4 linked regions of the Homo sapiens genome follow. The protein of the gene in region 3 interacts with the protein of the main gene of each other region in a biochemical or structural test. Each region holds a gene or a part of one and is shown on either strand. Other genes may lie near its edges.

Region 1 (7,617 bases), about 100 Mb from region 3:
TCAAATTATCCTACATAGCTACAGTAACCAAAACAGCATGGTACTGGCATAAAAACAGACATAAAGACCCATGGAAAATAACAGAACCAAGAAACAAATCCATACACCTACAGTGAACTCATTTTGACAAAGGTGCCAAGAACATACATTGGAGAAAAGACAGTCCCTTCAATAAATGGTGCTTGGAAAACTATGTGCAGAAGAATGAAACTTGTCCCCCATCTCTCAACTTACACAAAAATAAAATCAAAATGGATTAAAGGCTTAAATCTAAGACTTTAAACTATGAAACTACTACAAGAAAATATTGGGAAAAATCTCCAGGACGCTGGTCTGGCCAAAAATTTCTTGAATAATACCCCACAGGCACAGGCAACCAAAGCAAAAACGGACAAATGGGATCACATCAAGTTAAAAAGCTTCCGCACAGCAAAGGAAACAATCGACATACGTGATGAGACAACCCACAGAATGGGAGAAAATATGTGCTAACTACCTATCTCACAAGGGATTAATAACCAGATATGTAAGGAGCTCAAACAACTCTACAGGAAAAAAAAAAACTCATAATCTGATTTAAAAATGGGCAAAAGATTTGAACAGACATTTCACAAAGACATACAATTGGCAAACAGGCATATGAAAAGGTGCTCAACATCACTGATCATCAGAGAAATGCATATCAAAACTACAATGAGATATCATCTCACCCCAGTTAAAATGGCTTTTATCCAAAAGACAAGCAAAAACAAATGCTGGAGAGGATGTGGAGAAAAGGGAACCCTCGTACACTGTTGGTGGGAATGTAAACTAGTATACCCACTATGGAGAACAGTTTGGAGGGTCCTCAAAAAACTAAAAACAGGGGTACCATACGATTCAGCAATCCGACTACTGGGTATATATCCAAAAGAAAGGAAATGAGTACATCAAAGAGATATCTGGACTCCTATGTTTGTTGCAGCACTGTTTACAACAGTCAAAACTTGAAAGCAACCTAAGTGTCCACCAACAGATAAATGTATAAAGAAAATGTGGTACATATACACAATGGAGTACTATTCAGCCATAAAAAAAGAATGAGATCTTGTCATTTGCAAAAATATGGATGGAACTGGAGGTCATTATGTTACATGAAATAAGTCAGGCATAGAAAGACAAACTTCACATGTTCTCACTTATTTGTGGAAGCTAAAAATCAAAACAAACTCACGGAGACAGAGTAAAAGGATGGTTATCAGAGGTGGGAAGGGTAGTGGTAGGGAAGTGGAGATGGTTAATGGGTACAGAAAAAATGAGTTAGACCCGATATTTGATAGCACACAGGGTAACTACAGTCAATAATAATTTAATTGGACATTTAAAAATAACTGAAAGTGTAACTGGATTGTCACACAGAAGACAAATGCTTGAAGGGATGGATACTCCATTTTTCCATGTGATAATTATGTATTGCATGCCTGTATCAAAGCATTTCATGTACCCCATAAATATATACATCTACTGTGTACCCCCAAAAATTAAACATTACAAAAAGTTCAGAAATATAGTTGTTTTCTTATTTGCAAAAATGCATAAAAAATGAAAAGGTAAACTTTTCTGGAAAATACATGTTTATTCCAGTGTTCACCTAATTGTTTGGGTGGGTAATCCAAAGAACAAAGTTCTTTTGGTTTTACAAGCTAAGTAACATGAAGTTAAGTGCACGATGGAATTAAGATATTCCAATACACATCCTCAACCTGTTGCCTAGAGAAAATAATCAGCCACATTAATATATTGAAGTCTACAAAAATTATGACATTTTGAGGAATATCTAAACTATTACAATTTCTTTAGGTTTACTAAGATAAACTGAGATGTTCTATTTCAAACAACCAATATTTAAAGAAGTTCGCATTTTTAATAAAAGGTCTATCGAAGAGATCCTAGAAAAACTTTAGACAAAAATTAAGCATTTCTAATTATAAAGGAATATGAAATATGAGTTTTTTATTTTTGTTTTTTCTTTTTTCATTTCATTCTCAAAATAATATCGAAGTTTACCTAGATCATTTTTTAAGCTAATTTCAGATGGTGGTTCTGAATCCATTGGCACGTTAATTAACGTGTAGCATACGTTCTCAGCCGCCGTCATGGTTTCTGGTTATATTATAACCAATCCTTGACACAAGATTTAAGGATGCCAGAAAATCTAGAAAAATAAACACAGACATATCATTACAAATTAAAAAAAAAAAACCCACAAACAAGTACCTATAGTGACCTTTTAAAGTATTAGAAAGGGCAGGTCAATCTATATCGTGTTCCCATAAAAATAAATTCTAGTAAAAACCACATTATCAGCTCTGGCATAAGGTATATTATCTATCACTCCCTCATCGCATCCCGGTCCAGTGTTTGAGAATGCTGTATAGCCGAATGAAGGCCCACAGAACAGTGACAGTCCCCCCAGCCACACCCCACAATGTTATGGACCGTATGGTTTTTACACAACACACAATCTGCATGCTCAAGTTAAGAGACCTTGTGCCTGAATACTCTGCCAAAACCCTAAAGCGCTTTATCGCGGTCCTTGGTGGGTTCCGACTCTATGTCCGCGGGTCCCTTAATCAACGCGCTGCACCCCCACCTCGCCCCACCCGCTTCCTCCTCCCCTTCCTCCAGCAAAGCAGCCCTAGGCCTGAAAGGGTACGCCTAGGGGTCTTGGGAGGGAAAAGACCCCCGGCCAATACAAAGGACGGGATGGAGCGTCCGACCCGGAGCTTCCTAGCCCTCCGCCCCCACCCCGACCCGCACCCCCACCCGTACCCCCACCCGGTCCCTTCTGCCAGGCCCAGACGCAAGCGGCCTAGTCGCTCCCCTTCCGCATCTTCCAGCTAGAAAGCCAGTTCTTCCGACTCTGCCCGACCCACCACGCCTCTGGGACTGGGGGCTTGTGGCCCACTACCAGGCTCCGAGGGGCAGTGGTTTGGTGCAGCCGCGGATCCGTCTACTGCGGCTCCGTCTACTCCGGCTATGAACCGCAGCAGCGGCGGCGGCGGCTCCAGAGTCCTTGGCTGACGTGGAAGGGGGTGGGGTAACGACCGAAGCCACAGCCACCTAGCACCTACGGCGACTCAGAGAGGACATGCTTTCTTTGTGCAGCGCTTGCGCGCTGCAAGTATATCCTATTTTCTTCCTCTTCTCTTGTCCAGGGTTTGATTAGGCCGCAGAGCAATGAAACCACGTATTTTCTAGTTTTCCCTGCAAGCCAAGCTCTGAGTTAAGCACTATGCTAATTTAAACGCTAACTGGAAATCGTTCCTTCTTCAGGAACAGTCAAGGGGAGAAAGTGCTTGGAGAGAGGGAAACTTTTACAGGGCTCTGTTCCCGTGAAAAAGAGCTCTGGACTAGAAAGTGGAAACCCAGTAATCCTTTTTCTTGTCCACACCCTAATAAACTGGGAAAGTAACTAATACTATTGGGAAGGTAATTCAGTTATTTTATTAATTATCACTAGATTAAAATCCATTTCAGTTCTTAACATCGCTAGTAGTTTGAATCTGCCTCTCTGCAGGTAGGGCTGGAGTTATTTGAAAATCCAAAGTCACATTGGTATAATTTCTGCTTTTTATTTAATAATGGCCTCTTTCCGTGATCCTTTCTGAGCACCCAGTAGATTAGAAAAAATTTTTATGCATAAAGGGAGACAGTCACTGTTTTAAAGGATTTTACGTATCTCCAAAGACCTGTTACAGCTGCAATCAGCCATAGTACTTTCGGTTTTGCCCATTTGAAGTTCCATAGCACGCCCCGCCCCTACACCTCCCTCTGCCCACAAAAGGGTTTTATGGCCAATTATTAATAACAAAATATCTTAAAGCTTAAGCAAAATACTGCGAATAAAAACAGATCTGACGGCAACTGCCCTAGTTAACAGGTTCATCTCAGGAAGATGGAACACCAATAGTACCTCATTTATGTAGGATCTAGCTCTTTTGAGCTTTCTCTTTTTAGAACCATCAAGCAATCTACAAATTCTTTGAGCACCCAAAATTGTATTCAAAGGCCATGTGTTGACAGCACTTTAAGAGTGCCTCTCTGATTCTGTGCATTCATTTTTTTTAATATTTAATCTTAATGGTAGAGTGACATGAATACAGAGATCCCATATACTCTTTACCTAGTTTCTCCCAATGGTAACATCTTGCATAGTTATAGTACAATATCAATTTCAGGAAATTGACAGACATAATTCACCCAGCCTTGTTCAGACTTCACTAGTTTTACATGTACTCGTTTTTATATTCACTTGTAGACAATTTTATCATGCTTATATGTGTGTAATCACCAACACAGTCGAGACAGAACAGTTCTATCACAAGGATTCTCATGCTGTCCTTTGATAGCCATAGCCACCTCCCACACTAACCTGTGGCAACCACTAATAATTCTCTATGATTTTTATCATCTCAATGTTATATAAATGGAATTATACAATGTAATCTTTTGAGATTGGATTTTTTTACTGAGCATAATTCCCCTGAGATCAATCCCGGGTGTGTGTACAACAGTTTGTTCCTTTTCTGTGTATTCGTTTTTAACATGGAAGTTTTACAAATGCAGTTATCTGGTTTCCAAGCCCACTTAACTTACCAAAAAGTGACAATCTGTCAGCAAGAAATGAGGCCAAAAAAGGTATAAAAACTAGATTTACAGTAAGAAAGCTCAGTTTAGGGCCATCATGGTGTAGGACTTAAACCGTACAGACTTCATTTGCCCCAGAGGTTCATTCTGTTACAGAATAACTTTGAGGTTTCTCATGACCCCAAGTCATTAAGTTCTAAATATGAAAAGGCAAGAAAATGTAATGTTTTACATATTACTTTAGTTAGATCTGAACCTACAATTGTCATTGGCAGTGCATATATTTTTCCATATTCTTAAGTACAAAGCTTTTTGAATGGGTATAAGGACCTTAATATTAACCTCATTAACTCTTCCTGATCTGTTGTAAAATACACTTTGTTTGGGCTGTTTTACTCTAAGATGTAATTATATAATTTTGAATGCCTTTAAATTATAAATGCAGAGCAAAGACCTTGTCATTTTATCAAGGACCATAGAAATTGTGGTATCTAAAAAGTCAAGGCCTAGAGAATAGGGACTTGCCCCAAATCATGTAATGGCCAAACACTGAGTTAGAACTAGGACCTGAATCCTGTCATCTACGTTATTATTTTTATTTTTTTGAGACAAGAGTCTCACTCTGTCACCCAGGCCGGAGTACAGCGGCATGATCATAGCTCACTGCAGCCTCAGACTCTGGACTCAAGTGATTCTCCCACCTCAGCCTCCTGAGTAGCTGGGACCACAGGTGTGTGCCACCACACCAGGCTAAGTTTTAAAAATTTTTGTAGAGATGGGGTCTCACTATATTGCCCAGGCTGGTCTTGAACTGAACTCAAGCAATCCTCCCACCTCGGCCTCTCAAAGTGTTGAGATTACAGGCGTGAGCCAACACACCCAGCCACTGCCTTTTATTCCATGCCAGTTCTTCAGAGCTGCACACATACATGCTCAATAAATTCCAGGTGAATTGAGTATCTTTGTATCAAAGTGACAGGCTTTATAAAACATCATTAGGATTTTACTGTTTGTAATTATTCAACAGACTAAATGGAATATGTGAGTACAACAGACTAAACATGAAAGGGCATCACAATGAACTGTATATACAGTGGGGTTGAGTATTACTGGAGTGGGGAGGACTTTAAGTTCTAAAGTCAGTATATAAGACTAAAAATCACATTGAAAAAATTACTTAAATTGCTCCCAAAGTATAATACAGAATATTTATTTTTTTAGCTGAATACAAGCCAACTAGTGGTTTGTATTTGTGGAACAGGTGCATGTTCCACAATGATAAACATAACAATATCTTTGGTTTTATTTTTTGAGACAGAGTCTCGCTCTGTCACCTGGCCAGGCTGGAGTGCAGTGGCATGATCTCGGCTCACTGCAACCTCTGCCTCCCAGGTTCAAGTGATTCTCCTGCCTCAGCCTCCCGAGTAGCTGGGACTACAGGCGCGTGCTACCATGCCCATTTAATTTTTGTATTTTTAGTAGAGACGGGATTTTGCCATGTTGCCCAGGCTGGTCTCGAACTCTTGACCTCAGGTGATCCACCCGCCTCGGCCTCCCAAAGTGCTGGGATTACAGGTATGAGCCACAATATCTTTAAACAGCAGAATCATTCAGCAAAGACAGAGGCTCACCCAATGGAATGCATGTGGAAGAGAGATCTGCCTAAGCAAAGGGCAGATTATTATATTTCCCACTTATGCTCCCTCCCCAGACTAAATACCCATTGAGTGTAGAGGCAGGTGGGAGTTCCTGAGTTCACTATTTTGTGTGTGTGTGTGTGTGTGTGTGTGTGTGTATGTGTGTGGAAAGTTACATGTGCTTGATGCAACTCCACTGTAGGTCAAATAGCCACATGGTACTTGCGTCTAACTCCCAAGCTTGCATGGTAGATTCCTGAGGCTACTGCTGGAGAAACTGACATCTCTCACATTCCAGTACTTAGACATCTTTCCCTTAATAAGGCTCCCAGAGCTACTTTTACCATTCTCTAAGAAATCAGGGGGATTTAAACCTACTAAGGCTTTTGAAGATTTGGGAAAGTTGGGGGGAAAAAATAAACTATGAATTTTAGAGTTTAAAAGGTGTTATCACATAAATTCTCCCTTTTAACCCTCACTATAATTCTCCAAAGGGTTTCCTTAAAAAAGAGCTAAGTAACTTGCCCAAAGCCAATAGCAGCTAATTAGAATTAGGTCTAAAATGGGTTACTATCTATAAATGAATTTTTCTTCAGAAAGATGTATTATCTCAGAAAATAAAATAACTCCTCTAGATGTCAGCAGCCAAATTTTGGATTATGGTTTTTGTCTTTTTTTTTTTTTTTTTTTTTTGAGACAGAGTCTCGCTCCAGGCTGGAGTGCAGTGGCGCGATCTTGGCTCACTGCAAGCTCCGCCTCCCGCGTTCACGCCATTCTCCTGCCTCAGCCTCTCCGAGTAGCTGGGACTACAGGCACCCTCCACCATGCCCGGCTAATTTTTTGTATTTTCAGTAGAGACGGGGTTTCACCGTGGTCTCGATCTCCCGATCTCGTGATCCGCCTGCCTCGGCCTCCCAAAGTGCTGGGATTACAAGCGTGAGCCACCGCGCCTGGCCGGATTATGGGTTTTTAAAAATTAAATTAAATTAAAATTTTTTTTGAGATGGAGTTTCACTCTTGTTGCCCAGGCTAGAGTGCAATGGCACGATCTTGGCTCACTGCAACCTCTGCCTCCTGGGTTCAAGCGATTCTCCTGCCCCAGCCTCCTGAGTAGCTAGGATTACATGCATGTGCCACCACACCCAGCTAATTGTTTTGTATTTTTAGTAGAGATGAGGTTTCTCCATGTTGGTCAGGCTGGTCTGGAACTCCCGACCTCAAGTGATCCGCCCACCTCAGCCTCCCAAAGTGCTGGGATTACAGGCATGAGCCACCACGCCCAGCCAGGATTATGGTTTTTTTTTTTAAATCAGATTTCCTCTAATTTCAGTTTACATGGTCTAAGATAAAA
Region 2 (4,153 bases), about 53 Mb from region 3:
AGCGCGGGCTGCTGTGCAAGAGCGAGCGCTGCGTGAACACCAGCGGCTCCTTCCGCTGCGTCTGCAAAGCCGGCTTCGCGCGCAGCCGCCCGCACGGGGCCTGCGTTCCCCAGCGCCGCCGCTGACGCCGCCGACGCCGCCCTCGGCCCAGACCTCGGTGATCACTGAGGGATTTCCGCGAGCTCGGCCTCACTTCTGCCCCGACTTGTGGCTCGGACCCAGGGACCTTCAGGGCCCGCAGACCCTCCCGGCGCCTTGAGACCCGAGGCGCCCCTACCGGCCCCCCTCCCCGGTTAGCGGGCGGTTGTAAGGTCTCCGGCGGGCGCTGCCTGCCTTCCTCCCAGAGGGTGTTTCCTAGAAACTGATAAATCAGATCGTGCCTCTTTACCCTTGGCTTTCGAAGCAAATTGATGTTCACGTCTGACGTGGGCGCGGGCTGCGCAGGGCGGCGCCAGACCCCAGCCGCCTCCCAGGGGCTAGACTGAGCCCGGCACAAGGGGTGTGAAATAGAATTTATTGTGGCTCTGATTATGTACACGTGAGATGGCCTGGCTGGGCCGGCCGGGCTCACATGGTTTGTACAATAAATACATCTGTGGGGCGGGCTCTCCGCAGCCGGGAAGGGCCACCGCCACGGTTCAGTCCAGCTTCCGGGCTCCCAGCTTCATGGGGCCCTTGGCCACCTTCCTCTCGGCGCGTTTGGCCTCCATCTCCCGCCGCCGCTCCTCGCGCTTCTTCCGGGCCAGCTCAGCCTTGACCTGTCCTGGCGTCAGGAAGGGGAGCCCCGGTCTCAGCTCTCCAGCCAGTGCCTGCCGGGGGCCTGTAGGGGCGGGCTAGTCGGGGAGCCCTAGTCTTCAGCCCACCCAGGGGAAGCACTTACGACTGTCAGTCTCGAGGCCCTCCCAGTTGTCCTCACCCCAAGAGTCTGGCCTCGGCTGTAAAGAGAAGTGTGGGCTGCAGTGGGGCCCACTTCTGGCTGAGGTCCACCATCTCTACCCTCTCGCCAGACCTGTGCTGGGTACCTGGGTGCTGGGACGTGCAGACAGGGTAGCGAAGGGGTCGCCCTTGTCGCTGGACTCTGGGCCACCCCAGTTATACTCGCTGGCCAGCCGTGTACCGTCAGGAGGTGGCTCCTGGGAGCTTGGCTCCTGCCAGCCCTGTTCCCAGGAGCCCTCAGCTTCCCAGCTGCTCCAGTCGGACTCTGGGGATTTGGAGGATTTGTGGTCGGAGTTGCTGACCTGTAGAAGAGCGGGAGGGGGAAGTAGCCCTGGGCCCAAGGAGGAAAGAGCCCCATACACACACCTCCCCACCAGACCCAGCTCACCTGACTAGCACGGCTCACTTGGCCCCCGGTGCTCCAGTCGTCCTGCTGGGCCAGCACAGACTCGGCCTCCTGCTGCAGTGTGGGAAGGGACCACTGACTCCCACCCCATGCTAAAGGGCAAGTGAGCCCGCCCCAGCATCATCCCAGCCACGGGCCCCACCACTGTCTTTTGCCTTCCTCCTCATTTGCTCCTCAGGCCCTGTTTCCCATCTATTAAATGGACGCTGACCCTGGCCTGCCCTCACCCCTCTTTAAGGCTGGGGAATGAGATCTAGATGCCCCTTCCAACAGCCTTGAGGGCCAGAAACTGCTGCTGTCAGCCAGATGGGGAAATTGGGCCCCCAGCTCTGCCCCATTCTGAGGACAGCCCCAGTCCTCCCTCAGCCCAACCTGAGCCCATCCCCCAAGCAGAACTGGTCTGGTTCTAGACCCAGGAGTGGCCTCTCCTTGCTGACCCCCATGGCTGGGTGGGCACTGGAGGAGGGGAAAGGGGGACGGTGTGGGTAAGAGTGAGGAAGTTCAGGGAATGCCCCAGGCACCATCTGCCTAGCCTGCTCCCTGGGGCCGCTGGGGTTGAATGGGGCCTGCTGCTGGCTCTGGCCTACAATGGCCACTCCATGAGGCCTACGTGCCAGGGATGCTGTGCTGATGAGGACAGGCCAACTCCAGCCAGGCCCCACAGAAGCTCCCTGAATGGCAGCCTGTGGATTTGAGCTGGGGTCCCCTGGGGAGGCTCCCTCAGCCCCACACACCTCCAGGCTGCCCCAGTCTTCGTCGTCCCATCTGTCAGCAGTGCTGCTGTCCTCTGCTGTGTCCTTGTCCTCCTCCTGCGTCTCCCAGTGGCCTGAGGTTGTAGGGGTGGCAGGAACAGGGGTGGGGGCTGGGGCAGGAACTCCTGGGGAGCAGAGGCTCACTGAGCTTTCAGGGGGGTCTTGGGACAGGGCAGAGGCTGCTAGGGGAAGGGGGCTACTGGGGGGAAGGGGCACCAAGGAAGCCCACAGGGTGACTGGAGCCTACCCAGCTCCTATATCCCCTTCACCATCCCCGGGGGAGTCAGACAGTAAGAGTTCCTGGGTGCCTGCAGCTCTCAGCCCTCTCAGCCACTGATGCAGCTAGGCCAGGACACTCACCTTCAGGCGTGGGTCTTTGGGGAATGTTGGTTTCTGTTGGGGCAGTGGTTGGGTGCGAACGGATCAGCTTGGAGGTGAGTGAGGAGACCCCGGTCACGGCCCAGCCTGCCCAGCTAGCTGCGGCTCCTCCCATGCCAGGGCTGGAGGCTGCATGGACATCCTTCTCTGGGCAGTGGCATGAGAGAGAGGTGGGTATGGGCACGTCAGGCACCCATGGGTGACAGGACAGCAGGAACTGACAGTGCCCTGCAGCCACCCCTCCTTTCTCCAGGCCTGATTTCTCCCATCTGTGAAGGGGGAGCTGAGTCAAGTCTGCTCACTAGGACCTTTCAGAAACTCCAGTGGGGGTGGGACACAAACAGGTCACAGTCAAGGACATGGCAGGGAAAGAGGGAACACGAGTGTAAGCCACTCACCCACTTCCTCCAGCTGGGTCGGGTCCTCCGACACAGACTCCAATTTGGACAGGAAGCTCCGAATGGCCTTGAAGGCCTGTGGGGTAACGAGGCAGAGCTGGGGTCTCTGGGGTTCCCAAGAACCTACCAGGCCAGCTAGGGGCTGACATCCCCTACAGCCCCAGCCCAGGGCCCAGGCCCAGCTGTGCCTCACCTGGTCTCGCACGGATTTCTCAGGATCTACAGTGAGACCGCAGAGCACAGGCAGGATCTTCTGGGCACAGTCGTTCATTGAGTAGAGGTTGTGGGTGGCAGCAAAGCCCAGGACACCCGCAACCCGGGACGGTGCAAACGGGTCCCTAGTGGCTCGGCTGAAGGCAGAGGTAAGGACCCTGTGTCTGGTCTACGATGGGGCAGGAAAGAGGGCTCCTGAGTGTAGGGTCAATGTTGGGACCCAGAACCACCAGCCCTTACTTCCCAGAATGGGACCACCCATAGGTCCCCAGAATCTGAAAAATATGAATGAATCACTTAAATGGGGAGAGTTGACCTAAAACTCTGGACCTGGGCTTCTCTTCCCAAATCACTGGGTTCCACACTGCCTCAGGGCATGGGACCACAACAGCAGCTGTCCCCAGGGCTCGGACACAGGCTCCCTTCCTCCCTGCCCAGCTGACCGTTCATTCCTGTTAACTGTCTGGGCACGGCAAGCAACTGAACTTACAAACCCTGGCTGAAGGGATGCACACAGGCCATGGGGCCAAGCACGCCTGGATTCAGATCCCAGATCCCTCCTGACTGTGTGACTTCGGCCAACTCACTCCTCCTCTGGGAACCCAGATATGGGGCCAACAGCGTGCAGGGTCTAAGTCTCTGGGAGAATGAAGGCCCCCACACACAAGACTCCTGGCCCTGGAGGAGGCTGTGGTCCTGCGACAGGGACCGGGCTCCAGCAGTTGTGCAGGACACTCACGCTAGCACTGAGGTAGGAGCCGATTTTGCCCAGGCAGACTGTGGTGTTGCAGCGGATGGGGCCCTGTTCATCCTTGGCCTGTAGCCGTGCAAAGTGCTTCATCAGCTCCACATTGAGGTTGGCCTCGTTCAGCTTTGGGGCCAGGAGCAGCATGGACTGTGGGGCAGAAATGAGTGGGAACTGTGGGCTGTGGCGGGCAAAGGGCCTTGTGCAGGAACAGCCTCCTGGCAGCCCTCATCCCAGAGCACACCCATCAAAGCCTGCAAGGCCACCTCCCAGCCTGGGCCTGGCCCTGTCCAGCATGTTGAAGAAAGGGACCCCATTTCTGTCC
Region 3 (7,031 bases):
CCCGAATGAATAGTAGGCAATGGTGAGAAAACAAACAACTGAAAAAACTTTCTATTTGTAAGTATTTTCAAGCTTAAAAAAATTAAAATTATACAAGGAAGACATATATACCCTTTTCCAGATTCACCTATTGTTAATATTTACCTCATTTGTTTTATAATTTGCACTTGTGTTTCTCTCTCTCTAAACATTATATATGTATGTTATACATTTGATTTTTTTTCCCTGAACCATTAAGAAGCAGATTATATACAACACGGCACTTTACCCCTAAATACTTCAGTGCTTATTTTATAAGATTAGGGATATTCTCTTACATAATCAATCACAGTACCATTATTAACTTCACAAATTTACACTGATAGTTTTTTTAGCTTTTTGTTGTTGTTGTTTTGAGATAGAGTTTCACTCTTCTTGCCCAGGCTGGAGTGCAATGGCGTGATCTCGGCTCACTGCAACCTCTGCCTCCCGGGTTCAAGTGATTCTCCTGTCTCAGCCTCCTGCGTAGCTGGGATTTCAGGCACCTGCCACCACGCCCGGTTCATTTTTGTATTTTTACTAGAGTCAGAGTTTTACCATGCTGGCCAGGCTGGTCTTGAACTCCTGACCTCAGGTGATCTGCCTGCCTCGGCCTCCCGAAGTGTTGGGATTACAGGCGTGAGCCACCGCACCCAGCCTGTTGTTGTTGTTTAAGAGACAGATCTTGCTATGTTGCCCAGGCTGGAGTGCAGTGGCTATTCAGAGACACAATCACAGTTCACTATAACCTTGAACTCCTGGTCTCAAGTGATCCTCCTGCCTCAGCCTCCTGAGTAGGAAGGACTACAGCCATGTGCCATCATGCCAGGCTAACAATGATACAATAATTGTATCCGATCTGTCAACCATATGTCAATTTCGTCAGTTGACCTAATAATATTTTTAATAGTAGTTGTGATATTATGATATACATACATACCGGTTTTCATCCATGGTTCCTAGCTCATAACTCCCATATCCCTTATTATACATAATGTTGGGGCACTTTAGGCCTCAGGAGCAGCCCTTAGAAAAAAGAACCTCTCTTTGACCTTCTCCTGCCCTCCTTTCACCAGCCCAAGGCAGGATCTCCAAAAGGGGTCCTGCACCATATCCTGGAGGAAGATTAATGCTGCACAGAGAGGCCAAGAATTTGGACAGGCCTTGCTGTGTTTCCCCACTCAGCCTATCAGTATTAGGTCATACCCTTGCCCAGTCACATTTCTGCATGCCTGTCAATCATGCCTATCCAATGAAGTCTCCATAAAAGGCTCAAGAGGACAGGGTCTGGGAAGCTTCTGGACAGCTGAACACATGCAGGCTTACAGGAAGATGAACAAGGTCTCATCTATTTTCCAGGAGGGTGGCGTACCCCAGCTCCCTGGGGACAGAAGCTCCTGTGCTCAAGACCCTCCCAGACCTTGCCCTATGTATCTCTTCATCTGGCTGCTTATTTGCATCCTTTAAAATGTCCTCTGTAACAAACTGATAAATGTCAAGTAAGTTTCCCTGAGTTCTGTGAGGTGCTCTAGCAGATTAATTGAACACCCCAGAGGGGGTCGTGGGAGGCCAAACTTGAGGTCAGTAAGAAGTTCTGAAAGTCTGGACTTATGACTGGTGGGAAGGAAGAATCAGTCTTGGGGGACTGAACTCTCAACCTGTAGAATCTGAGGCTATTCCCAGGTAGATAGCATCAGAATTGAATTGAATTGGAGGACACCAGCTAGGTGTGACCGCTTGATGTGTGCGGAAAAATCTAAACACACTTGATCACAGAAGTCTTCTGTGTTCATTGTTGCTGTTGAATGAGAAAATAGAAAAAACAAACAGTTTGAGTTGTTTTTTCTACACTACATTAGTAGAGGATCCAGTCTAGGGTAAGGTATTGCGCATTTAGATGTCATATCTCTGCAGTTTCAAATAAGGAGATTCTTATCTCCAAAATAATTAAATGAAAAATGCAATTGGAAGACGTGTCTAGTTTTACTGCTTTGCATAAAAGGGGGAAAAATAGACACACTGTATACATGTTTTTTATTCATCTGTATATCACAGACCATCCCCCTTAGAAGGATACACAAAAAACTCTGTTAATACTAGTTGTCTCCAAAATGAGAAACTGGCATGGCTGAGTGAGAGGAAGACTTCTGACTGTTAACAACTTTTGAATTTTGTACTATATGAATGTATAATCCAATTTTTAAAAGATTAAAAACTGCTGCTGCTAGAGGCAAGTATTAAGTACAATCTATTCATATTCAGTAATAGACATACGTTTGGCTGGATGAACTACAGAGGCTACAAAAAATATTTTGTTATCCTACCATGTTCTTTGTTCCAACCTCTTAGGTCTTCCTAGAAACAAAGGCATCAGAGTCAAGACCATAAAGGAGTGCATCTTAAGACAATGCATGGTACCATTTTACCTTCACAAAAGTTTGCTCTGTGCTCAAGAGGCAATTTATCATTTAGAAAAAAACAGTGTCTCAAATTCTCTTTAATATGTGATGATCTCCAACATTTTTTTTTTTTTTTTTTTTTTGGAGATAGAGTCTCACTCTGTCGCCCAGGCTGGAGTGCAGTGGCACCATCTTGGCTCACTGCAACCTCTGCTTCCCGGGTTCAAGCAATTCTCCTGCCTCAGCCTCCTGAGTAGCTGGGACTACAGGTGTGTGCCACCACGCCCATCTAATTTTTTGTATTTTAGTGGAGAAGGGGTTAATTTTTTGTATTTTAGTGGAGATGGAGTTTCACCATGTTGCCCAGGGTGGTCTTGAACTCCTGAGCTCAGGCAATCCGCCCACCTCAGCCTCCCAAAGTGCTAAGATTACAGGTGTGGGCCACTGCACTCAGGAATATCTTTTTAAAAGTGTGAAGCCTCTGTCTCACTCAAAGCAACCACTAGGAAGAGCACAGCGGCTTTAGTGAATCAAGAAATTTATCCCAATGTAACCCTGTTCATTTCATACAGAACAGGGCATATAAAGAGTAAATACTTGGCTGGGCACGGTGGCTCACGCCTATAATCCAAGCACTTTTGGGAGGCAGAGGCAGGCAGATCACTTGAGGTCAGGAGTTCGAGACCCACCTGGCCAACACGGCAAAACTCTGTCTCTACTAAAAATAAGAAAATTAGCCGGGTGTGATGGCGTGCACCTGTAATCCCAGCCACTTGGGAGGCTGAGGCAGGAGAATTGCTTGACCCCGGGAGGTGGAGGTTGCAAGATCGTGCCATTGCACTCCAGTCTGGGAGACAGAGCAAGACTCTGTCAAGAAAGAAAGAAAGGAAGAAAGAAAGGAAAGAAGAAAGAAAAAGAGTAAATACTCCTCTTTTATGCACACCTGATAAAGGTATCCTCCTGGTATTATCTTTCACTTGACCTCAAAACCATCAGCAACAGTAGAAGGTCTGGCTTCAAGACGAGAAATCTGAGTCACGAATATGTGAACTTGATAACTACCACTTAAAAATGTCACCAACCAGTACCACAGCCCTGAGATAAGAGATGAATCAAAATATTCCATACTGGCTTCAAATATTTAAACTGCAAAAGATGGCTGGGCATGGTGGCTGACGCCTGTAATCCCAGTACTTTGTGAGGCCGAGGCAGGCAGATTGCTTGAGTCCAGGAGTTCGAGACCAGCCTGGGCAACAAGGCAAAACCCCATCTCTACCAAAATACAGAAATTAGCCCAGCGTGGTGGTGCATGCCTGTAGTCCCAGCTACTTGGGAGGCTGAGGTGGGAGAATCACTTGAACCTGGGAGGCAGAGGTTGCAACAAGCTGAGATTGCACCACTGTACTCCAGCCTGGGTGACAGAGTGAAACCCCATCTCAAAAAAATAAATAAATAAAATAAAAATGCAAAATATATTAATTTGCTATTAAAGATATCTACAAGTTTTGGATTAAAGATTGGTTCTACTTAGACTTTAATTAGAAAAAGTCATGCCAAAATACAGTGTGGGGTCACCATAGCTCTAGTCCCCTAATTCAAGTGCATTCTAAGAGATACGCTATATACCAGGTGTGACTACAAGTAACTTTAATTTAGCTGTAAAAGGAAAGTTCTAAACTTCATAGAAAATAGGTGGCTGAGGGCCCCCAATCATGGTTTAAGGAAAAAGGAAAAGGTCAGGTGCAGCAACGCATGCCTGTATCCCAGTTACTTGGGAGGCTGAGGCAGGAAGATTAACTGAGCTCAGGAGTTGGAGGCCAGCCTAGACAACATAGTAAGACCCTGTCTCAAAAAAATAAAACAAAACAACAGCCGGGCGTGGTGGCTCACGCCTGTAATCCCAGCACTTCGGGAGGCTGAGTCAGGCGGATCACAAGGTCAGGAGATCGAGACCATTCTGGCTAACACGGCGAAACCCCATCTCTACTAAAAATACAAAAAAATTAGCCGGGCGTAGGGGTGGGCGCCTGTGGTCCCAGCTACTCGGGAGGCTGAGGCAGGAGAATGGCGTGAACCTGGGAGGGAGAGCTTGCAGCGAGCCGAGATCACACCACTGCACTCCAGCCTGGGTGACAGAGTGAGACTCCATCTCAAAAAAAAATAAGTAAATAAAACAAAACAAAACCAAAAACGATCTTATGTTAATATGTAGAATCTGCTCTGAATAAATCTTTTAAATCAGGAACGATTAAAAGACAGAGAAAGAATTTATAGCACACTGAAATAAGATTTTTAAAAAATTATGTGGACTGTATTCAAAGCTTGAATTCTTACTCAAAGTTCCTACTTACCTTTCCATATTAATGGGTGGAGCATGCATTTTGGTTGCTTCAGAAGTACGCTTGCCCATACTAGAGGACATGATGGTTTCACCTTCAGATTTTAATTTGTCCACAAAGTTATCTACTTCCTTTCCTTTGGCTCCAAGTTTTAAAGCCTTGCTGGGGCCTGAAGGCCTAAGTGGAAGAATTTGAAATTCATTACCCAAAGGTTTATTTTTACAAGCACACATGATCTGATGAAAATTTTGTATCTCCCGTCCAGAGAAATACACCTGTGCACAAAATTTTGTATATAATTTTGGGTAATTCACAGATTTCCCCTAAAATCAATCAATGAACATCAAGATTAAAAATCTACATTCCATAAAGCATTAAATAGCCCTTTCCTCCCCACAATAAGGCAACTCTCATAGGAAACTGAGGTCATGACATAATTTATAACTCTCTTTTATACAAAAGGAAAAACACCACATTCAGATTTCTTCTTTATCCTCATATTGTATGTGGCCAAATGTAACATCATATCTTACTTCATCAAGTCCTTCTTTATTTACAGCTTTCCAAGAAATCAGATTATGACTTCAAAGATAGACACATATACACCCTTCACCTGGTATTCTAAAGTACACTGGATTATACCTGGCTGGTGCAGGTGCCACTTTTGGTTTATCAGTTTCAATGATGGTCTCTGTGATCATGGCAGCTGTGCTGCCTCCAGATACTGCAGAGCTGCCAAATCCGCCAAATCCTGGTGCTTTTTTGCCCTGTCTCTCTGCATCTCTTCGGGCCTGTTGTAATTCCTTTGCTTTACGACGCATCTCAGCCTTAGCTTCACGTTCTTGAGTCTACAGAAAAAGACATACATTAATGTAGCTTTTTTTTTTGGGTTTTTGTTGAGACAGGGTCTCACTCTGTGACCCAGGCTGGAGTGCAAGTGGCACAATCACAGCTCACTGCAGCCTCAACTTCCTGGGCTCAAGTGATCCTCCCATCTCAGCCTCCCAAGTAGCTGGGACCCACATGCACGTGCTACCATGCCTGGCTAATTTTTTTTTTACTTTTTATAGAGACAGGGTCTCACTACGCTGTCCAGTCTGGTCTTGAACTCCTGGACTCAAGTGATACTCCCACTTCCGCCTCCCAAAGTGCTGAGATTACAGACATGAGCCACTGTGCCTAGCCTGGACATAGTTTTGAATACAGTCTACATTAGTAAGTAAAAATAGGAAAATGAGATTAGTGAAGCCTAAGAGAAAGACATACAAACAGGTAGTCCCAGAGAAGATCCTATTTACCTCTCTGACGGCTCTGAACACCTTCTCCTCATGAGAATCCATTTCTGTGAAGGTTCTGATCTGTGCCAAGTTAACATTCTCCCGGTATCCCAGTGCGACAATTTCATCAAAAGCAAAAATCAAATCAAAACAGTGCTCAGATATTTCATTCTCTTCTAAGGCTCGGCAATATTCAGGGATCTAAGCGTGGACACCAATAAAAAAGAAAGATTTAGAATTTATCAGCAGCTATATTTCCAAGTCTTATCCTTTAGAGTACATAAATTTCAATAACCTAAATCCCTTTATTAGCTACTTCTAGTCTTTATTTTATTTTTTGGGACAGAGTCTCGCTCTGCTGCCCACGCTGGAGTGCAGTGGTGCCATCTCGGCTCACTGCAACCTCCATCTCCTGGGTTTAAGTGATTCTCCTGCCTCAGCTTCCGGAGTAGCTGGGACTACAGGTGTGTACCACCACGCCCAGCTAATTTTTGTATTTTTAGTAGAGACGGGGTTTCACCATGTTGGCCAGGCTGGTGTTGAACTCCTGACCTCAGGTGATCCGCTTGCCTCAGTCTCCCAAACTGCTGGGATTACAGGCGTGAGCCACTGCGCCCAGCCTAACTCCCTGATTTTTTTTTTTTTTTTTTTTTTAAGACAAAGTCTAACTCTGTCACCCGGTCTGGAGTGCAGTGGCACGATCTCGGCTCACTGCAACCCCCACCTCCTGGGTTCACGCAATTCTCATGCCTCAGCCTCCTGAGTAGTAGGATTATGGGTGCCCGCCACCATGCCCAGCTAATTTTTTTGTATTTTGAGTAGAGACGAGGTTTCACCACGTTGGTCAGGCTGGTCTCAAACTTCTGACCTCAGGTGATCCACCCGCCTCAGCCTCCCAAAGTGCTGGGATTACAAGCGTGAGCCACCACGCCCAAGACCCTGATTCTTACAGCCGGGTGCAGCGGCTCATGCCTGTAATCCCAGCACTTCGGGACGCC
Region 4 (7,031 bases), on a different chromosome or scaffold from region 3:
GGGAAATTTTACAGAACCCCCAACCTGCTCATTTCTTCCATGGCTATATTAATGGGTTTTTTTGTTGGTTTTTAGTTTTTTTGTAGAGATGAGGTCTCACCATGTTGCCCAGGCTGGTCTCAAACTCCTAGGCTCAAGCGATTCACCCGCCTCAGCCTCCCAAAGTGCTGGGATTACAGGTGTGGGCCACTGCGCCTGGCCCTATGAATGGCTTTATTTATTTATTTGTTTTTGAGACAGAGCTTCTCTCTTGTTGCCCAGGCTGGAGTTCAGTGGCGCCATCTCAGCTCACTGCAACCTCTGCCTCCTGGGTTCAAGCGATTCTCCCGCCTCAGCCTCCTGACTAGCTGGGATTACAGGTGCCCGCCACGGTGCCTGGCTAATTTTTTTGTATTTTTAGTAGAGATGGGGTTTCACCATGTTGGCCAGGCTGGTCTCAAACTCCTGACCAGGGGTCATCCGCTCGCCTCGGCCTCCCAAAGTGCTGGGATTACGGGCGTGAGCCACCGCGCCCAGCCCTATGAATAGTTTTAATGCCGCACTATTGAGAGGTTATGAGAGCTGACGTGCCGGGCAGCTGCTTGGGAGAAAGGCCCAGTGTCTGGGTGACGTCGCGTCTCCATACTGTCTCATTGAGGCTTTTCCTCTTTTCTCATCACAGCATCCTAATGTCCTATGATCACGTGGAACTCACATTCAATGACATGAAGAACGTGCCAGAAGCCTTCAAAGGGACCAAGAAAGGCACTGTCTACCTTACCCCTTACCGGGTGAGTTGCACAGCAGGGCAGTTGGTTGAGAGGCTTGTTGCTGTTGGAGGTGACGTGAGTCTTAGTCTCAGGTCTGCCTCAGCCTCATGAGTCAGGTGGCCTCTGAATCCTGGTGAGTGTTAGTGCTTCACTCTGCCTGTTTCTCTGTCACATGCTCCTGGATTCCAGAATCACCAGGCTCTTTGTGTAACTGACCTGACCACTGGGCAGTGAACCCATGTCAATTCCAGAGCCGCTGCTGCAAAATCTCTATAGAGTTGGATGCAGCCGCTGGCATGACTTGGGCCTGGAGGCCAGACTATTATTATTAATATTTTGTTTTCTGTGAGAGTAGCCCATGAAGCCCTGTGTGTATCCAGAGTGAGAAATCCAGTAAACAGGGTACAGTTGCATGGCACGGCCTCCGGACTGGGCAGAGAGCCCGGTACCACCCCGCAGAATGACAAATGCCAGGCTGCAGAATGGGCCCTGCCTGAGAGTTACCCACGTGGACTCTGAGAGGTTGAGAAATACAAATGGATGTTCTTGGAAAAGGATTGCTGCCTGTGGCTACTCAAGATTTAGACTCAAAGACAGGCTGGTGCGGAGGCTCATGCCTGTAATCCCAGCACTCTGGGAGGCCAAGGTAGGCAGGCCACTTGAACTCAGGAGTTCGAGACCAGCCTGGGCAACATGGCAAAACCCCATCTCTACAAAAAATACAAAAATTAGCTGGGTGTGGTGGCACATGCCTCTAGTCTCAGCTACCCGAGAGGTAAGGTGGAGAATAACTGGAGCCTGGAGAGGTTGAGGCTGCAGTGAGCTGGGATCATGCCACTGGATTCTAGCCTGGGCAACAGAGTGAGACCCTGCCTAAAAAAAAAAGACTTAGACTCAAAGACAGCTGGAAGAAGAGGAGCACATTTTCAAGTTTTAATCTCCATGACTTCACAAAGACAGGAGAGTCTCAAAACCCCATCTCTGGAGGCTCAACTTGGCACCTTCAGTCACAGATAAAAGTCGTGGGTTTAAAACCCTGGCTGGGGCCGGGTGCGGTGGCTCATGCCTGTAATCCCAGCACTTTGGGAGGCCGAGGCGGGCGGATCATGAGGTCAGGAGATCGAGACCATCCTGGCTAACACGGTGAAACCCCATCTCTCCTAAAACTACAAAAAATTAGCCGGGCATGGTGGCGGGCACCTGTAGTCCCAGCTACTCAGGAGGCTGAGGCAGGAGAATGGCGTGAACCCGGGAGGCGGAGCTTGCAGCGAGCCAAGATCGCGCCACTGCACTCCAGCCCAGGCAACAGAGTAAGACTCCATCTCAAAAAAAAAAAAAGAAAAGAAAAGAAAAAATAAAACCCAAGGGTTTCTCCAGGCACAGGCTCCAGGAGAGCTCTTGTTGCTGTTTATAGCCCCCCTCAATGGGAGCTAGCGACCTACTGCACCATCATTCTCAGTTCTGGAGAGTTCAGGCTGGAGACCCCCCTCTTTCAGGAACCCATCCCTGCCTTGCCTCTGCCTGTCCTTCCCTAGCTTCGTAGGCCCCTTCACTTAGGCAACACTGCCACCACCCCACCACGTCAGTGACAAAGCAGTCTGCCCTGCTCATAGATACTATCTGTGACCAGCACGTTTTTCTCCCGTGTGCGTGAGCTTGGCCTCTCCAGGCTGCGGTGAGCCCTTTCCCTTTCCAAAGCTCTCTCCAGGAGTGTCTGGCACAGAGAGAGCCATGGGGCTGCTGGACCCTGGCACTGGGAGAGGATTCGTCACTCCCAGGAAGCAGGCGGGAAGCATGGCAGCGTGGGCTGTGCTTCTAGTACTGATGGCCTCACCCTCTCTCCCTGCAGGTCATCTTTCTGTCCAAGGGCAAGGATGCCATGCAGTCCTTCATGATGCCATTTTATCTCATGAAAGACTGTGAGATCAAGCAGCCCGTATTTGGTGCAAACTACATCAAGGGAACAGTGAAGGCGGAAGCGGGAGGTAGGTGATGGGAACTCAGGGACACGCATGGGGCCTGCAGGGAGGTGTCCTGGGAACCTCTGACTGCCGCCGTGGGGGCGTCCCCTTCAGACCCTTATCGCCCTAGCCATGACCTCTTCCCAGCTCTGGGCTGCCAGCTGGTGGGGTTTGATTGCCAAGAGGTGGGGAAAATGCTGGCATGAAAGACAGCAGCTCAGATCAGCTTTTCAGAGCGTGAAGTCTGCAGAAGCCTGCGGACTGAGTCAAGATGCTTAGTGCAACTTGGCGAGCGCATACAAATTTTAGACTCAGGAAGGAGCTGCATCAGGTTCTTGAGAGGGGCCTTTTCATGAGAGCCAGGAAGAGGCAGCTGCCTCTGGGAAGCCAGAGTCACCCTGCTTTGGGGCTGGCTTTTTGGCAGGCCCCAGAGACCTCTGCATTGAACTTGCCTTCCCCTTGACACCCAGCCAGGCCCGCCCTTGCTATTGAGACACTCTTGGTCCCCCTTTGGGCAGAAGCCAGGCTAGAGGGGCCGGAGTCTGTCCTTGGGCCCCCTTAGGACGAGAGGTCTGCTCTGAATTTTAAGGTCGGCTGTTGCTGAGTGGGCTTGTTCCTGTGAAGCTGCCGAGTGCTTGACTGGGGGCGGAGAGAAACCTTGATGTGGCCTTGGCACCCGTGTACATATTGGGCCAAGGGTGGGAGGACAGGCTTGTTCCAGGAAGGAGAGGCCATTGTTCCAAAGGGGGAAGCGAGTACAGCAGGGCCAGGCCAGGCTGCAGTGCTGGCTCCTATGCAGGCAGCAGGCTGGAAACCATGGCACCAGGAAGTCCCCATCACAGTGCAGGCCCAGCCCCCGCAGGCCTCCCGGGCGTTGGATGAAGTCCTGGAGAGGAAAACAGCCATCTCTTTGGGCATAAGTTTTCTTTTCCTGTGCTGTTTATTCACTGTCCTTCCCCTTTCAGGTGGCTGGGAAGGCTCTGCTTCCTACAAGTTGACTTTCACGGCAGGGGGCGCCATTGAGTTCGGACAGCGGATGCTCCAGGTGGCATCTCAAGGTATCCAGGCTCCGAAGATTAGGGGCTAAAGACACACTAAACATGTAGGGGTTTGGTATGAGTTTGCTTCCTTTTCGTTTTGCTTTTTCAAGAACTCAAGAGGTAAGTGTTTGGGCACCAGGCTGACCAGGCCTAGGAGTTGGGAAGGAAAGCTGTCATTGGCATCAGCTCTGTCCTGTACCTCAGAGACTGCGTTTCCCTGCCTGGGGCAGGTGGATGACGTTTTGACAAAGCTGTTTGGACTCAAGGACACTTTACTATGGCCTCATAAAACAAACACTAAACCAACCATTCGACTGCGGTTCCGCAGCCATTGAAAATGACCGAGGGATGGGCCAGCAGACATCCTCCGCCAGCTCACTCCTACCCCAGCCCTGAGCCTCCCTCCCGGCCTCTGTCCACCCTCCAGCCTTGCCCTTGACCTCCCTTGCCTTCCCCTGGCTCTGACCTCTCCCGTCCTCTCTCATCCCTGACCAAGGTGGCCCCCCGAGTATGGGTGGAGGGTGGAGTGGGATGGACAGAGGATGTCTGCGGGGCACATTCCTGAGACCCAGTAGCTCCCATCTGCAGGCAGCGGGGCTGCCCTCTCCCCGCCCCAAGGCAGGCCACGCTCATTTCTCTTTCCCCTTGTACTCGTAGCCTCCAGAGGTGAAGTCCCCAGTGGAGCCTATGGCTACTCTTACATGCCCAGCGGGGCCTATGTCTATCCCCCGCCAGTCGCCAATGGAATGTACCCCTGCCCTCCTGGCTACCCCTATCCACCGCCCCCACCTGGTGAGTGTGTCCTTTGCTGCCCCCACTCCCCTCATGAGCCCACCTACCCAGGCTCCCCCCAGGCCAGGGAGACTTTATTCCTTGAGCTGCTTCAGGACCAACGAAGGAGCTGGAGAGGCCCCCCTCACCCGGGAGGGGGCCGCAGCCGGGTGCTCACCATGTCCTTGTTACTCTCTCACCGAGCAGAGTTCTATCCAGGACCCCCCATGATGGACGGGGCCATGGGATACGTGCAGCCCCCACCACCGCCCTACCCTGGGCCCATGGAACCTCCGGTCAGCGGCCCCGATGTCCCCTCCACTCCTGCAGGTGAGGGCCCTTGGGTGCTGGCAGCCCTTCGGGACCAGCCCTCTCCTCCCCGATGTCGCACAGAGAGCCTCAGAATGGCCAGAGACTGCTGAGAGCCGCAGATGATGGATGACCCCTGGACTACCCCAGGGGCCCAGCAGGGCTGTGGCCTGGTGGAGCGGAGCTAGATTCTGGCCCCACCCCCATCCCTTAGCTATCCATGTGCCCTGGGCGGGGAAGGTCACCCTGTGTGCCTCTCGATCCTCTCATCTACACTCAGCTGGTCGGTCACAGTGGCACCTGGGGCATTGGCTCAAGGATTAGATGAGGTGAGACATGCGATGGGCCTGGAAAGGACCGTGCCAGCGCGTGGCATGTGCTCAGGAAACCTCACCTGCTGCTCTCATTGGTGGAACTGGACCCCCAGCACCAGCTGCCCCGAGCCATGGGGGCCCGGGGTCTCTTAGCTGAGCTCAGGGGGAGGAGAACTTGTCACCGACACCAGGTGTGTTTGCTCTCACAGCCGAAGCCAAGGCCGCAGAAGCAGCCGCCAGCGCCTATTACAACCCAGGCAATCCTCACAACGTCTACATGCCCACGGTGAGAGGGCTTGGCAGTGCCGGTGCAGCCCCACAGCCGCAGATGCTGGGAGCCGCAGGGGGATGACCGCACCATGTTTTAAACCTTCTAATGCAAGTCTCTCCTTTCTCCCTTCTTTAGAGCCAGCCGCCGCCACCTCCCTACTACCCACCGGAAGATAAGAAGACCCAGTAGGCCCTCCTGCCTCCCTGCCTCCCACCCTCATCTCTCTACCCTACCCCTCCCATCGGGGCTGTGCTGGGGCTTGGGGAGGGGAGGGGGCGCCTTGTTCTCCCTCCAGGTCTGATCATAAACAATTACCAGGAACTAGCATTGTGGGACATTAGGGCCCCCGGCCTCGGGAGAGGTGCCGCCCAGCTTCCCATGCCAGCCCGGAGCCCACAGTGCTGCCCAGCGTACCTCCCTCACCGTCTGGGGCTCTTCTGGGAGCACGGAGCATCCCCTGTTCCTGTTTCACTCTCAGCTTCTCCCCTCGAAGGGACTCTCTGGCCACCTCCTCCACCGCAGTCCAGCTCCCTCAGTCTGGCACCCACTGCTACACTCAGCCTCATGAGCCACTTCAGACCAGCCAGGTGTCTTCCCGGGCCCTGCCAGACCCTGCTCACATTCCCTCTGCTGGTCTGTGCTGGTCTCAGAAGGCCACCGCGCCCGCATTCCACTCAGCCAGGGTCCAGCTGCAGCCCCCGCCACCCTTCCTTCCCTTCCCTGTCCTGGGTCATGTTGTTGCCACCCTGTGTGACTTTTGAAGCTGTAAAATGAGCTTCCAGGGCTTGGGTGGCGTCGGGGCAGGGCCGCCGAGGCTGGGAGGAAGCCCTTCTGCCTTTTGCTGGTGTTTCTGGAATTTGCTTTCCCTCACCTCTCACTTCCTTCTAGAAGGAGCTTCCTGACTGGAACCAGAGAATGCATGTCTGTCCACTTGGTGGCTGCTGGGTGGGGCCGGGAACAAGGGCCCCTGACCCTGTGTGCTGGCCGGGACCTGCCACCAGCCCCCCAGCCTGCTTCTTCCCCTTAAGCTTTGTGCCCCTGGATGCGCTAACATTCACTCTTGTTTGTCCCTGGACTGGCCATGAAGTGAGGAGATGGTTATTTAAAGAGAATTCCCTATTTATTTGACAAAAAATCCAGTTAATATATTAATGTGAAATAAACCCTGTTTGCACCTCGATTTGTTTGCTGAAAATGTGAAATAGTAAAAATGAAATAACTGGACCCTTTCTGGCTCTGCGTGTGGTGACCCGGGGGTCTCTTCCGGAAGGAGAGCCGTCTGGCCGCTGAGGGCCCTGGAGACTTCTGGGACGGTTCCCTCCCATGGGAGGATCCCCATTCTCACGGCCCAGCCAGCCTGTCTGGTCCCCAAGACAGCTCTGGCCTCTGGAGCTGGTTCTTAACGGTTGTCGCTCAGCAGCTGTGTCCCTCCCCCACTGAGTCCCCAGGGCCTGGCTGGGACAGAGGTGGATGTGGCCCAGAGTTGGCCTTGAAGGGAGGAGTTGGGGCTGCCACCTTGTCCCCTGCTGGCTCCTCGAGGAATGGCAGCCCTGGCCTAAGTCCTGGTTGCTGGAGGGAGGAGGCCGAGTCAGCCCTGGAGCACGTCAGGACCTGTG

The links.
Region 1: the proteins of ARCN1 (region 3) and COPB1 form a complex in vitro, tested with the Homo sapiens proteins (2 studies listed by BioGRID).
Region 2: the proteins of ARCN1 (region 3) and SCYL1 form a complex in vitro, tested with the Homo sapiens proteins (one study listed by BioGRID).
Region 4: the proteins of ARCN1 (region 3) and WBP2 form a complex in vitro, tested with the Homo sapiens proteins (one study listed by BioGRID).

The regions. Positions count from the first base shown.
Region 1 is NC_000011.10:14,496,792-14,504,408, forward strand, and holds the start of COPB1 (coatomer subunit beta), read right to left. Parts: upstream 3,021-7,617; 5' UTR 2,916-3,020; exon of another isoform or gene 2,818-2,915; intron 2,195-2,817; 5' UTR 2,138-2,194; coding exon 2,047-2,137; intron 1-2,046. UniProt on the Homo sapiens protein: The coatomer is a cytosolic protein complex that binds to dilysine motifs and reversibly associates with Golgi non-clathrin-coated vesicles, which further mediate biosynthetic protein transport from the ER, via the Golgi up to the trans Golgi network.
Region 2 is NC_000011.10:65,535,052-65,539,204, reverse strand, and holds the end of SCYL1 (N-terminal kinase-like protein), read right to left. Parts: intron 3,979-4,153; coding exon 3,823-3,978; intron 3,253-3,822; coding exon 3,064-3,252; intron 2,947-3,063; coding exon 2,871-2,946; intron 2,620-2,870; coding exon 2,455-2,619; intron 2,220-2,454; coding exon 2,077-2,219; intron 1,397-2,076; coding exon 1,325-1,396; intron 1,239-1,324; coding exon 1,023-1,238; intron 955-1,022; coding exon of another isoform or gene 936-954; coding exon 881-935; intron 764-880; coding exon 639-763; 3' UTR 501-638; downstream 1-500. Other genes in the region: LTBP3 (latent-transforming growth factor beta-binding protein 3 isoform 1 precursor), read left to right, coding at 1-125. UniProt on the Homo sapiens protein: Regulates COPI-mediated retrograde protein traffic at the interface between the Golgi apparatus and the endoplasmic reticulum. Involved in the maintenance of the Golgi apparatus morphology.
Region 3 is NC_000011.10:118,582,382-118,589,412, reverse strand, and holds part of ARCN1 (coatomer subunit delta), read right to left. Parts: intron 6,235-7,031; coding exon 6,055-6,234; intron 5,605-6,054; coding exon 5,399-5,604; intron 4,934-5,398; coding exon 4,769-4,933; intron 1-4,768. UniProt on the Homo sapiens protein: Component of the coatomer, a cytosolic protein complex that binds to dilysine motifs and reversibly associates with Golgi non-clathrin-coated vesicles, which further mediate biosynthetic protein transport from the ER, via the Golgi up to the trans Golgi network.
Region 4 is NC_000017.11:75,845,307-75,852,337, reverse strand, and holds the end of WBP2 (WW domain-binding protein 2), read left to right. Parts: intron 1-661; coding exon 662-770; intron 771-2,598; coding exon 2,599-2,734; intron 2,735-3,675; coding exon 3,676-3,768; intron 3,769-4,407; coding exon 4,408-4,542; intron 4,543-4,728; coding exon 4,729-4,851; intron 4,852-5,353; coding exon 5,354-5,430; intron 5,431-5,550; coding exon 5,551-5,604; 3' UTR 5,605-6,639; downstream 6,640-7,031. UniProt on the Homo sapiens protein: Acts as a transcriptional coactivator of estrogen and progesterone receptors (ESR1 and PGR) upon hormone activation. In presence of estrogen, binds to ESR1-responsive promoters. Synergizes with YAP1 to enhance PGR activity.